3 separate regions of the Homo sapiens genome follow, and all the other regions are linked to region 2. The links come from fine-mapping of genetic effects on gene expression. A gene starts in region 2. Each other region holds a variant in brackets. All regions are shown on one strand. Distances are between the middles of the regions.

Region 1 (4,078 bases), 110 kb after region 2:
CTCCCAAAGTGCTGGGATTACAGGCTTGAGCCACTACACCCGATTGCCTCTTCCTTTTCTTTACCCGCTGGACATAACCTATTCACGCAAACTGGCGAGAGATACAGCGGCTCTGACACAGAGGAGCAAGAGGCAAACCCCCTCTCACCCAACACCACCTCGGCCCCCAGCTCAGACAGCCAATCAGCGTGGACCTCGCTAGGTGACGCAACTGGTAGCGAAAAAGAAAATGTAAGCGGCTGCCACTCGTGGGGAGCGCGCTCGCGTGCGTGCTCACGCCCGAGTCCAAGGGAGTCTTGCCTGGCGCGCGCTCACTCCTGCCGAAGGTGGGATCCTGAGCGGCGGCGAAGAGGCTGGAATGGCGGGAATGGGCGGGAGGAAGGAGAAGAAAGGAAACAACCGGGAAGGAAGAGGGAAGGGAAAGGAAAGGAAGTGGGAAAATGATGAAAGAGAAATCAAGGACACGGGCTGGCGCGGTGGCTCACGCCTGTAATCCCAGCACTTTGGGAGACCGAGGCGGGCGGATCACCTGAGGTCAGGGGTTCTAGACCAGCTTGGCCAACATGGCGAAATCCCGTCTCTACTAAAAGTACAAAAATTAGCCGGGCGTGGTGGCGGGCATCTGTAATCCCAGCTACTCGGGAGGCTGAGGCAGGAGAATCGCTTAAACCCGGGAGGCGGAGGTTGCAGTGAGCTGAGATCGCGTCACCGCACTCCAGCCTGGGCGACAGAGCGAGACTGTCTCAAAAAACAAACAAACAACAACAACAAAAAAAAAACCAAGGAGACCTATGAGAAACAGAAGAGGAGAAATGGGAGAAAAAGAAGTGAAAGGTGAAGAAAATATAAGGAAGCGAGCAAGATGGAAAAGGAAAGGGAAAGAAAGGAAAAATAAAAAGCCAACCAGCATTTACTGAAGCTGCTGGGCGCGGTACACGGTGCTAAATGCTGAGGGGTTGCAGAGAGGGCTGGTCGGCTTTCAGTGAAGGTGGGGCCAGGGCTTCTTAAGGCCTTATTTATTTATGTACGTATTTATTTATTTATTTTTATTGAGATGGAGTCTCACTCTGTTGCCCAGGCTGGAGTGCAGTGGCGCTATCTCGGCTCACTGCAACCTCCGCCTCCCAGGTTCAAACAATTCTCCTGCCTCAGCCTCCCGAGTGTTGGGATTACAGGTGCACACCACCAAGCCCAGCTAATTTTTTGTATTTTTAGTAGAGACGGGTTTCGCTATGTTGGCCAGGCTGGTCTCGGACTCCTGACCTCTGGTGATCCACCTGCCTCCGCCTCCCAAAGTGCTGGGATTACAGGCATGAGCCACCACGCCTGGCCAGGGCCCTTCTAGAAAACAAAGTTTAGGCAGCAGGAAAGATCAGAGACAGGAGTGCAGGAGTCCAAGTGGACACTGATGGAGTGGAGAGAGGAAAAGATGGGGAAAAACAGAAAAGAAAATACGGCAGAGGCAGGAGGATCACTTGAGGCCAGGAGTCCGAGACCAGCCTGGGCAACATAGCAAGACCCCATCTTTACAAATAAAGAAAATAAAATAAAGTGTGGAAATGGTAAAGTGGAAGGGAGGAAATGGATTGAGAAAGGATAAGTATTAAGGGAAAAGAAGAACAAAGAGATATAGGCTGGGCGTGGCAGCTCACACCTGTACTTCAAGCACTTTGGGAGGCCGAAGCAGGAAGATGGCTTGAGGCCCAGAGTTTGAGACCAGCCTGGGCAATGTAGCAAGACCCCATCTCTATTTTTATTTATTTATTTATTTTGAGACACAATCTCACTCTGTCGCCCAGGCTGGAGTGCAGTAGTGCGATCACAGCTCACTGCCACCTCCACCTCCCAGGCTCAATCAGTCCTCCCACGTCAGCCTCCCGAGTATCTGGGACTACAGGTGTGTGCCACCA[C/T]ACTGGGCTAATTTTTGTATTTTTTGTAGAGACAAGATCTCACTATATGTTCCAGGCTGGTCTTGAACTCGTGGCCTCAAGTGATCTGCCCACCTCGGCCTCCCAAAGTGCTGGGATTACAGGCATGAGCTACTGCACCTGGCCTAGTTTTTAAAAACATTTTTTTAAATTCAAAAATAAGAATTATAAACTCAGGAAATTAGGGAGCAGAACCCTCTATGCTTGACCTACAGTGCTTGGCTCAGTGAGGGGTTGAAATGTGGGCTGTGTGAGAAGATTAAGAGAGAAAGTGAATGTTGTGTGAGAGAGAAAAGGAAGAAGTCAACAGTAGAAAGAGAAAGAAGCTCAGCTGAGTGCACAGGGAGGTGGTGGAAAGAAGCTAGGGATAGACTTGGGTGCATAGAAAGAAAGAATATCAGCCAGGCATGGTGGCTTACGCTTGTAATCCCAGCATTTTGGGAGGCCAAGTGGGTGGATCACGAGGTCAGAAGATCGAGACCACCCTGACCAACATGGTGAAACCCCATCTCTACTAAAAATACAAAAAATTAACTGGGCATGGTGACGCACACCTGTAATCCCAGCTACTCGGGAGGCTGAGGCAGGAGAATCGCTTGAACCCGGAAGGCAGAGGTTGCAGTGAGCTGAGATCGTGCCATTGCACTCCAGCCTGGCAACAGCAAGATTCTGTCTCAAAAAAAAAAAAAGAAAGAAAAAGAAAGAGTGTCGCCTGGATTTTTGCAAAAGCCTCCTAAACAGCCTCTCTGCATCGACCCTTGCCTGTTCTCCTCAGTGGATTCTCAACACAAAAAAAATCCTTAAAAAATAAGTCAGATCGTCCCCGTCCCCCTCCCCCTCCCTCTCCCTCGTCTCCGTCTCCGTCTCCCTCTCCCCACGGTCTCCCTCTCATGCGGAGCCGAAGCTGGACTGTACTGCTGCCATCTCGGCTCACTGCAACCTCCCTGCCTGATTCTCCTGCCTCAGCCTGCCGAGTGCCTGCGATTGCAGGCACGCGCCGCCACGCCTGACTGGTTTTGGTGGAGACGGGGTTTCGCTGTGTTGGCCGGGCGGGTCTCCAGCCCCTAACCGCGAGTGATCCGCCAACCTCGGCCTCCCGAGGTGCCGGGATTGCAGACGGAGTCTCGTTCACTCAGTGCTCAATGGTGCCCAGGCTGGAGTGCAGTGGCGTGATCTCGGCTCACTACAACCTCCACCTCCCAGCCGCCTGCCTTGGCCTCCCAAAGTGCCGAGATTGCAGCCTCTGCCCGGCCGCCACCCCGTCTGGGAAGTGAGGAGTGTCTCTGCCTGGCCGCCCATCGTCTGGGATGTGAGGAGCCCCTCTGCCCGGCCGCCCAGTCTGGGAAGTGAGGAGCGTCTCCGCCCGGCCGCCATCCCATCTAGGAAGTGAGGAGCGCCTCTTCCCAGCCGCCATCACATCTAGGAAGTGAGGAGCGTCTCTGCCCGGCCGCCCATCGTCTGAGATGTGGGGAGCACCTCTGCCCCACCGCCCCATCTGGGATGTGAGGAGCGCTTCTGCCCGGCCGAGACCCCGTCTGGGAGGTGAGGAGCGTCTCTGCCCGGCCGCCCCGTCTGAGAAGTGAGGAGACCCTCTGCCTGGCAACCACCCCGTCTGAGAAGTGAGGAGCCCCTCCGCCCGGCAGCTGCCCCGTCTGAGAAGTGAGGAGCCTCTCCGCCCAGCAGCCACCCCATCTGGGAAGTGAGGAGCATCTCCGCCCGGCAGCCACCCCGTCCGGGAGGGAGGTGAGGGGGGGTCAGCCCCCCGCCCGGCCAGCCGCCCCATCCGGGAGGGAGGTGGGGGGTCAGCCCCCCGCCCGGCCAGCCGTGCCATCCGGGAGGGAGGTGGGGGGGTCAGCCCCCCGCCCGGCCAGCCGCCCGGTCCGGGAGGTGAGGGGCGCCTCTGCCCGGCCGCCCCTACTGGGAAGTGAGGAGCCCCTCTGCCCGGCCAGCCGCCCCGTCCGGGAGGGAGGTGGGGGGGTCAGCCCTCCGCCCGGCCAGCCGCCCCGTCTGGGAGGTGAGGGGCGCCTCTGCCCGGCCGCCCCTACTGGGAAGAGAGGAGCCCCTCTGCCCGGCCAGCCGCCCCGTCCGGGAGGGAGGTGGGGGGGTCGGCCCCCCGCCCGGCCAGCCGCCCCGTCCGGGAGGGAGGTGGG
Region 2 (4,078 bases):
CTTGAGCCCAGGAAGTCGAGATCACAGTGAGCTATGATGGCGCCACTGCACTGCAGCCTGGGAGTCAGAGTCTTGCTCTGTTGCCCAGGTTGGAGTGCAGTGATGCGATCTTGGCACGCTGCAACCTCCACCTCCCAGGTTCAAGCGATTCTCGTGCCTCAGCCTCCCGAGTAGCTGGAATCACAGGCGGGTGCCATCATGCCCAGCTAATTTTTGTAATTTTAGTGGAGTCGGGGTTTCACTATGTTGGCCAGGCTGGTCTTGAACTCCTGGCCTCAAGTGATCCACCCACCTCAGCCTCCCAAAGTGCTGGGATTACAGATGTGAGCCACCGCACCCAGCCTAAAAAAATTTTAAGAATGAAAAAAACACTTGTCTTGCCCCTGAGCCAACAAAGGTAATGGCCCCTTCCACACCCTCCCTAGCAGGCAGAACAGGCCAGACCCCAGTCCATCGATGTTGGAGGATACAGTAGGCTCCGCCCCCCTGCACGGCTCCATTGGTGGCGATGGCACAGACAGAGAGGACGGTGAGTGCCAGGATGAAGTAGGCAACCAGCAGCATGGCCAGGGCCTGCAGTAGCCCAGCATGACCCACCACGAACCCTGAGGCAGGAGCAGCAAATCAGGTCACAGGGGACTCACACCCCATATCCCCCACCCCCTGGTTCTGCAGAGCTCCAGGGTGGAGCTAAATGCAAGCCCACAGAGAGCCCCTCCCCAAACCCTTCAGCCAACCGCTTCTCTTGGGTCCCCTTCCTAATCTTATCCCAGTCCCATCTCCACCCCTCCCCATCATGTCCTCCCATACTATAGTCAGTCCACACCCGCCCCAGGACCCACTCACCAATCCTCAGAAAAACAACTATGCTGAACATGGACAGGACAGTGGGCACCACCACACCCAGGAAGGTGGACAGCTTCCGGGCAGACGCCCCTCCAGGACCCCCGGCCCCATTGGCAGGGAGGGCAACCCCCTCCTCCCCCAGGAGCCGGTAGGCCAGCAGAGGTGAGCTCTCGCTGGCCATGGCTGAGCACAGGTAGAGGAAGCCACAAATGGGTTAGGTGACCTGCAAAGGAGATTATGTTGCATCAAAAGCTCCCCCACAGAGCTCGCCCACCCCCAAAGACCACTAATCAAACACCCTGAAGCCTCCCCAAAAGACAGAGCTGCTCTCTACTAAAAATACAAAAATTGGCCAGGCTCGGTGGTTCATGCCTGTAATCCCAGCACTTTGGGAGGACGAGGCAGGTGGATCACCTGAGGTCAGGAGTTCGAGACCACCCTGGTCAACATGGTGAAACCCCGTCTCTACTAAAAATACAAAAAGTAGCTGGGCATGGTGGCTCATGCCTGTAGTCCCAGCTACTTGGGAGGCTGAGGCAGGAGAATCCCTTGAACCCAGGAGGCAGAGGTTGCAGTGAGCCGACATCACACCACTGCACTCCAGCCTGGGTGACAGAGTGAGACTCCGTCTCACAAGAAAAAAAAAAAAATTAGCCAAGCGTGAAGGTGCATGCCTGTAATCACAGCTACTTGGGAGGCTGAGACACGAGAATCGCTTGAGTCCTGGAGGCGTAGGGCTGCAGCGAGCCGAGATCATGCCACTGCACTCCAGCCTGGGTGACAGAGCGAGACCCTGTGTCAATAAAAAAAAAAAAAGAGACAACCGCAAGGAAACAGGAACGCACCCACACCCTGCTTACCGGCAACTCAAAAAAGTCCGTGGGCTGCAAATGGTACCAGCCACTGCCCCACAAAAAAGTGGTACCCCAAACCTGTCAGCAGGGGTTTCAAGGCCCCTCCCGGCTCCTGGGGGCCACCCCTTCCCTTATGTTCCTGAGACTAGGGATGGCACCGGTTCTGGAAAGGGGCAAAGGTTCTCTGACGGCACAGGCTTCTCCAGCCTCTCCTTCCTTAACTAGCAATGCAAGAGGAACCAAATCTCCCAAAAGGGAAGTAAGTTACGGGCAGGAGAGCCTTCCCCATCCTCTCCTTCGGTGTCCTGAGCTGCCCCTACCAAGCCCCCCAATGCAATCACCGCACCCACAGGTAACAAGAAACTTCCAACTCTTTCAAAACCCCACCCTCCGTCAATCCTCTCCCTCAACCCATCTCAAACCCCCTCCTCCTCGCCTTAGCCTCCCCGATTCCTCCCATCCACACGAGGCACCCCTCCCCACAAACTCTACCAACCCAAACACACCCTAGCGAAACAGAAACACAGACCGGCTCCCACCGAGCGACACAAGGTCCCCGGGTCCTCCTCCTCCCCCAATCCGGGCTCCTGCCCCTTTGCGCCCGTTGGGGTGCAAGGGAGCCAAGATATCCTTCTCCCCGGCCAGGTGCACCCCACAGCTCGGGGGCCGCGAGGCGCTCACTCACCCACCCGCAGGACGCAGCGCTCGGGGGCGATCCCCGCGAGCCGGGGGGCTCCGCTCGGGCGGAGAGTGCACGGGGGCCGGAAAAGACAGCTGCGGCTACCGGGATGCCAGGCCTGGAGCCTGTCCCCACCCCCACCAGCACGCGCGCGCTATTGGTCCCCGTCCTCGGCCCCGCCCCATGGCGCGCCCGGAGAAGCCCGACCCTCTCTGCTCTTCCCCAGCCTGCGCTGCTCCAGCTCCACGTGCGCCCGGGGATGCAATGCAGCCCTGCAGACAAGCGTCTCCGGCAGGACGTGGGCCGCGGGTCTCGGAGCCTCCTTCACTTAGGTACAAACAATCGTCGCCGCAGGGGCCGGACCCCAGTCCGAGCTCCGAGGTGCGGTGAGCAGCCACCCCACTAAAGGGGGCGTGTGAGGATGGCGGAAAGCGGCAGGGAGGTGGGCGGGGCTGCAACACCTGGGCCAGGTGCGTCACGGGAAATCCGGCCCACTTCGTTCAGGGACTTCTGGAGTTCTAGTCCTCCAACCTCTCAAAACCCTAGAACCTCCACCGGGTCCCAGCCTCGCCCCTCACCCGCTGCGGGGATCCTCCCTTCGCGCCCGATCCAGCTGCGCTCTTCGCTTCCGCCACCGGAGGGAGCCATTGGCCGCCGATCTGGGCCCAGGGTCGCTTTGCACCGTCTGATGCCCGCTTTCTTGCCTCCCTGCAGTGTTCTCACTTCCAGCAGAAATCCTAGAGCCTATGAACTCTACTGAGAGCTGAGACTCCTTCTTCACTCTTTACAGATCCCATGAACAGCAGTACCACCTGCCAACGCGTCCTCATATGTAAAATGGGCATAAACTCGAACCTCCCTCCTAAGGCTGTGAGTTCAGTGAGCATTTAATGGGCACTTTAGAACAACGCCTAAAGGTTTGATAAATTATCCCTTGCAAATAGCACTGCATTAAATTAGCCACTCTGTGAGGTAGGTACCGCTATTTCAATTTTTCAGATTAGGAAATTGGAGCTTGGAAAGTTTCAGATACATTTCCTTTTTTTTTTTTTTTTTTTTTTGATCCAGGAACTATTACACAGGCTGGAGTGCAGTGGCGCGATCTCGTGTCACTACAACCTCTGCATTTCCGGCTCAAGCATCCTCCTGCCTCAGCCTCCGCAGTGCCTGGAACTACACAGGCACACACCACGCCTGGCTAATTTTTAAATATTTTGTAGAGACCGGGTTTCGCCATGTTGCCCAGGCCTCTCTGGAACTCCTGAACTCAAGCATGCGCCTGCAGTCCCAGCTACTTAGGAGGCTGAGGCAGGAGGATCGCTTGAACCTGGGAGGCAGAGGTTGCAGTGAGCTGAGATCGCACCACTGCACTCCAGCCAGGGCAACAGAACGAGACTCTGTCTCAAAAAAAAAAAAAAAACTTTTTCAGGGTCAGTTAGTTATAAGCACTCCCTTGGCATACCCTGGCCTGTCCGTCACTGAACTCTGCTTCCATAAATCTCAACCTCCACCTTACCTTGTTAGTCTGTGGTTTTGCCTTGGACCTTGTCTTCATCAATGACTGCAGCCCCTCCTCTTCAGTTCACCTCTTCTACTGCGCTTATTAAAGAAAAAAATCTGACTCTTGTTAAAACAGTAAGTCAGACTTTATTCAGGACTATTTTGATTGGCACCAAGAAGGTGGCAAGGAGCTGGGTGC
Region 3 (4,078 bases), 73 kb before region 2:
GAGCGGGGTTTTATAAGATTTGGGTAGGTAAAGGAAAATTACAGTCCAAGGGGGGTTGTTCTCTGGTGGGCAGGGGTGGGGGTCACAAGGTGCTCAGTGGGGGAGCTTTTGAGCCAGGATGAGCCAGGAAAAGGAATTTCAGAAGGTAATGTTATTAGTTAAGGCAGGAACAGGCCATTTTCACTTCTTTTGTCATTCTTCAGTTACCTCAGGCCATCTGGATTTATACGTGCAGGTCACAGGGGATATGATGGCTTAGCTTGGGCTCAGAGGCCTGATTTTCCTGTCTTCTTATATTAATAAGAAAAATAAAATGAAATGGGGTAAAGTGTTGGGGCGGCGAAAATTTTGGGGGGTGGTATGGAGAGATAATGGGTGATGTTTCTCAGGGCTGCTTCGAGCGGGATTAGGGGCGGCGTGGGAACCTAGAGTGGGAGAGATTAAGCTGAAGGAAGATTTTGTGGTAAGGGGTGATATCGTGGGGTTGCTAGAAGAAACATTTGTCGTGTAGAATTACTGGTGATGGCCTGGATATGGTTTTGTATGAATTGAAAAACTAAATGGAATAAGAGAAGGAGAAAAACAGGTATCAAAGGACTAAGAATTGGGAGGACCTAGGACATCTAATTAGAGTGCCTAAGGAGGTTCAGCACAGCCTTGCCAGCAAAGATTATTTATTTACTTTAAGAGTTAAGAGAGGCGGTTTGGGGATAGCACCAGGAGATACCAGCTGTGATGGCTTGGAGAAACAGTGTAAACTGGCAGTGTAAACAAGAGCAGGGCATTTATGAGTAGTTGAGAACAGTGAATAGGAGTATCACTAGACAGAAGATAGTAGGAATGACAAGTTTTTGGGGGCACAGTCTAAGTTGGTCTGGTGTCTGGAATAAGACTGGGGCCTAATAAAAAGGAGTGTCTATACAGGAGCTTAACTGGGCTGTACCTTGTAGCATTGTGAGGACAGGCCTGAATTCTGAGAAGGGCAAGTGGTAAAAGTATTGTCCAGTCCTTTTTAAGTTGGTGGCTGAGCTTGGTAAGGTGTGTTTTTAAAAGACCATTAGTTCACTGAATACTAAGAGCCTGAGAAACTGCTTGGGTGATTTGACTAATAAAGGCCAGTCCATTATAGGACTAGAGGTGGGAAGGCCAAACCGAGGAATTTTGTCTAAGAGAAGGGAAGAAATGACCGTGGTGGCCTTCTTAGACCCTGTGGGAAAGGCCTTTACCTATCCAGTGAAAGTGTCTACCTAGACCAAGAGGTATTTTAGTTTCCTGACTCGGGGCATGTTGAATAAAGCCAATTTGCCAGTCCTGGGTGGGGGCAAATCCCTGAGCTTGATGTGTAGGGAAGGGAGGGGGCCTGAATAATCCCTGAGTAGTAGAATAGCAGATGGAACACCGAGAAGTTATTTCCTTGAGGATAGATTTCCATGATGGAAAGGAAAGGAGAGGTTCTAAGAGGTGGGATAGTGGCTTGTTCTATAGCATAGCCTGCCTTTACTGGTGTGTGGTGATTAGGCCTGGTGGAACTGCCATCAATAAACCAAGTGTGATCAGGGTGAGGAACAGGAAAGAAGGAAATATGGGGAAATAGGGTGAATGTCAGGTGGATCAGAGAGACACAGTCATGGAGGTCAGGTGTGGTATCAGGAATAAGGTGGGAGGCCAGATTGAAGTCCGGGCCAGGAACAATGGTAATTGTGGGAGACTCAACAAAGAGTACAGCTGAAGGAGCCAGGGAGTAAAAAGTATATGTGTCAGGTGTGAGGAAGAAAATAGATTTTGGAAGTTATGAGAACTGTAGAGAGTGAGTTGAGCATAGTTTGTGATTTTAAGGGCCTCTAAAAGTATTAGGGTGGTGGCGGCCGCCGCACGCAGACTTGAGGGCTAGGCAAAACAGTAAGGTCAAGTTGTTTGGATAAAAAGGCTACAGGGCGCAGTGTGGGTTCTCGTGTAAGAATTCCAACTGCACAGCCCTGCACTTCGGCTGTGGGTAATGAAAAGGGTTGGGATGAGTCAGGGAGAGCTAGGGTGGGGGCAGTCTCTAAAGCTGTCTTCAAGGAATGGAAAGAGGAGTGGGGAAAGGATTTAGGATCTATGGGGTCAGCTAGGTTTCCTTTTGTGAGTTTATATAATGGTTTTGTTAGGATGGCAAAATCAGGTACCTAAAGTCAAAAGTATCTAACCATGACTAGGAAGGAAAGGGGTTGTTGTTTTGTAGAAGGTGCTGGGGTTTGAGAGATCAGTTGGAAACGATCAGCAG[G/A]GAGAGCATGTGTGTTTTTATGAGAATTATGCTGAGATAGGTAACAGATGAAGAAGAAATTTGGGTTCAACTGAAGGAATGGGGGCTGTCTGTGAAGCCTTGAGGCAGTACAGCCCGGGTAATTTGCTGAGCCTGATGGGTGTCAGTCAGGCCAAGTGAAAGCGAAGAGAGGCTGGGATGAAGGGTGCAAAGGAATAGTAAAGAAGGCATGTTTGAGATCCAGAACAGAATATTGGGTTGTGGAGGGAGGTATTGAGGATAGGAGAATATATGGGTTTGGCACCGTGGGGTGGATAGGCAAAATAATTTGGTTGACAAGGCGCAGATCCCAAACTAACCTGTAAGTTTTGTCTGGTTTTAGAACAGGTAAAATGGGGGAATTGTAAGGGAAGTTTATAGGCTTTAAAAGGCCATGCTGTAGCAGGCGAGTGATAACAGACTTTAATCCTTTTAAAGCGTGCTGTGGGATGGGATATTGGCATTGAGCGGGGTAAGGGTGATTAGGTTTTAATGGGATGGTAAGGGGTGCATGATCGGTCACCAAGGAGGGAGTAGAGGTATCTTATACTTGTGGGTTAAGGTGGGGGGATATGAGAGGAGGATGCAAAGGAGGCTTTGAACTGGGGAAAAGGGCAGCAATGAGGTGTGGCTGTAGTCCAGGAACAGTCAGGGAAGCAGATAATTTAGTTAAAATGTCTCAGCCTAATAAGGGAACTGGGCAGGTGGGGATAACTAAAAAAGAGTGCATAAAAGAATGTTGTATAAGTCGGCACCAGAGTTGGAGAGTTTTAAGAGGTTTAGAAGCCTGGCTGTCAATACTCACAACAGTTATGGAGGCAAGGGAAACAGGCCCTTGAAAAGAAGGTGATGTGGAGTGGGTAGCCTCCGAATTGAGTAAGGGGACGGACTTACCCTCCACTGTGAGACTTACCTAGAGCGTCTGTGATGGTCCTGTAGGCTTCCAAGGCGATCGGGCAGTGTCAGTCTTCAGCCACTAAGCTGAGAAGATCTGGGAAGGAGTCAGAGAGCCTTGGGCCAGAGTTCCAGGGGCTCTGGAAGTGGCTGCCAGGTGAGTTGAACAGTCCAATTTTCAGTGGGGTTCCACACAGATGGGACACAGCTTAGGAGGAATCCTGGACTGTGGGCATTCCTTGGCTCAGTGGCCAGATTTCTGGCACTTGTAGCAAGCTCCTGGGGGAGGAGGTTCTGGAGGAATCCCTGGCAGCTGCGGTTCAGGCATTTGGAGTTTTCATGTGCTGGAGATGTGGCTGGGGTTTGTCTCACAATGGAGGCAAGGAATTGCAACTCAGAAATACATTGCTACTTGGCTGCCTCTACTCTATTATTGTACACCTTGAAGGTGAGGTTAATTAAGTCCTGTTGTGGGGTTTGAGGGCCAGAATTTAATTTTTGGAGTTTTATTTAATGTCAGGAGTGGATTGGATAATAAAATGTATATTGAGAATAAGATGACCTTTTGACCTTTTAGGGTCTAGGGCTGTAAAGTGTCTCGGTTGCTGCCGAACAAGCCATGAACTGGGTTGGGTTTTTCATATTTGATGAAAGAGCCTAAATGCTAACTGATTTGGGAGAGTTCAGATAAAGAAAAAGGAGCATTAACCTTGACTATGCCTTTAGCTCCAGCCACCTTTTTAAGAGGAAATTGCTGGGCAGGTTGGGGAGGGCTAGTCGTGGAATAAAACTATAAGCCAGACTGGGTGTGAGGAGGGGAGGTGATAAAAGGATTATAGGGTGGGGGAGCAGAGGCTGAGGAAGAATTAGGACCTGGCTCAGCCTGGCGAGGAGCAGCCTGGG

Which allele goes with the higher level. Alleles are on the strand shown, and positions count from the first base shown. SD is a standard deviation of normalised expression in the study named. Not every link is listed here.
For the expression in anterior cingulate cortex of the gene that starts at base 2,512 in region 2, allele G in region 3 goes with a higher level than allele A (small effect, 0.27 SD a copy in GTEx).

Evidence for each region. PIP is the estimated chance that this variant, and not a neighbour inherited with it, causes the effect. A credible set is the group of variants that fine-mapping cannot tell apart.
Region 1: its variant is the best candidate, but not a certain one, in a credible set for the expression of SLC12A9 in aorta (GTEx, PIP 0.80).
Region 3: its variant is the best candidate, but not a certain one, in a credible set for the expression of SLC12A9 in anterior cingulate cortex (GTEx, PIP 0.51).

The regions. Positions count from the first base shown.
Region 1 is chr7:100,741,571-100,745,648 of GRCh38, reverse strand. All of the region lies in intron 7 of ZAN (zonadhesin), which reads right to left. Among named protein-coding and RNA genes, the nearest start is that of ZAN, 10 kb to the right of the region's middle. RefSeq lists an enhancer at 324-373. The variant C/T (reference allele first, on the strand shown) is at 1,911.
Region 2 is chr7:100,851,147-100,855,224 of GRCh38, reverse strand. It overlaps SLC12A9 (solute carrier family 12 member 9), which reads right to left and starts at 2,512. Exons shown (of 14, transcript NM_020246.4): 1 at 2,390-2,512; 2 at 847-1,069; 3 at 471-605. The coding sequence starts at 1,027. It overlaps SLC12A9-AS1 (SLC12A9 antisense RNA 1), which reads left to right and starts at 2,611. Exons shown (of 2, transcript NR_146550.1): 1 at 2,611-2,711. RefSeq lists a silencer at 2,276-2,585 and enhancers at 2,876-3,025, 3,096-3,295.
Region 3 is chr7:100,923,807-100,927,884 of GRCh38, reverse strand. No RefSeq gene overlaps it. Among named protein-coding and RNA genes, the nearest start is that of MUC3A, 24 kb to the left of the region's middle. RefSeq lists an enhancer at 1-404. The variant G/A (reference allele first, on the strand shown) is at 2,264.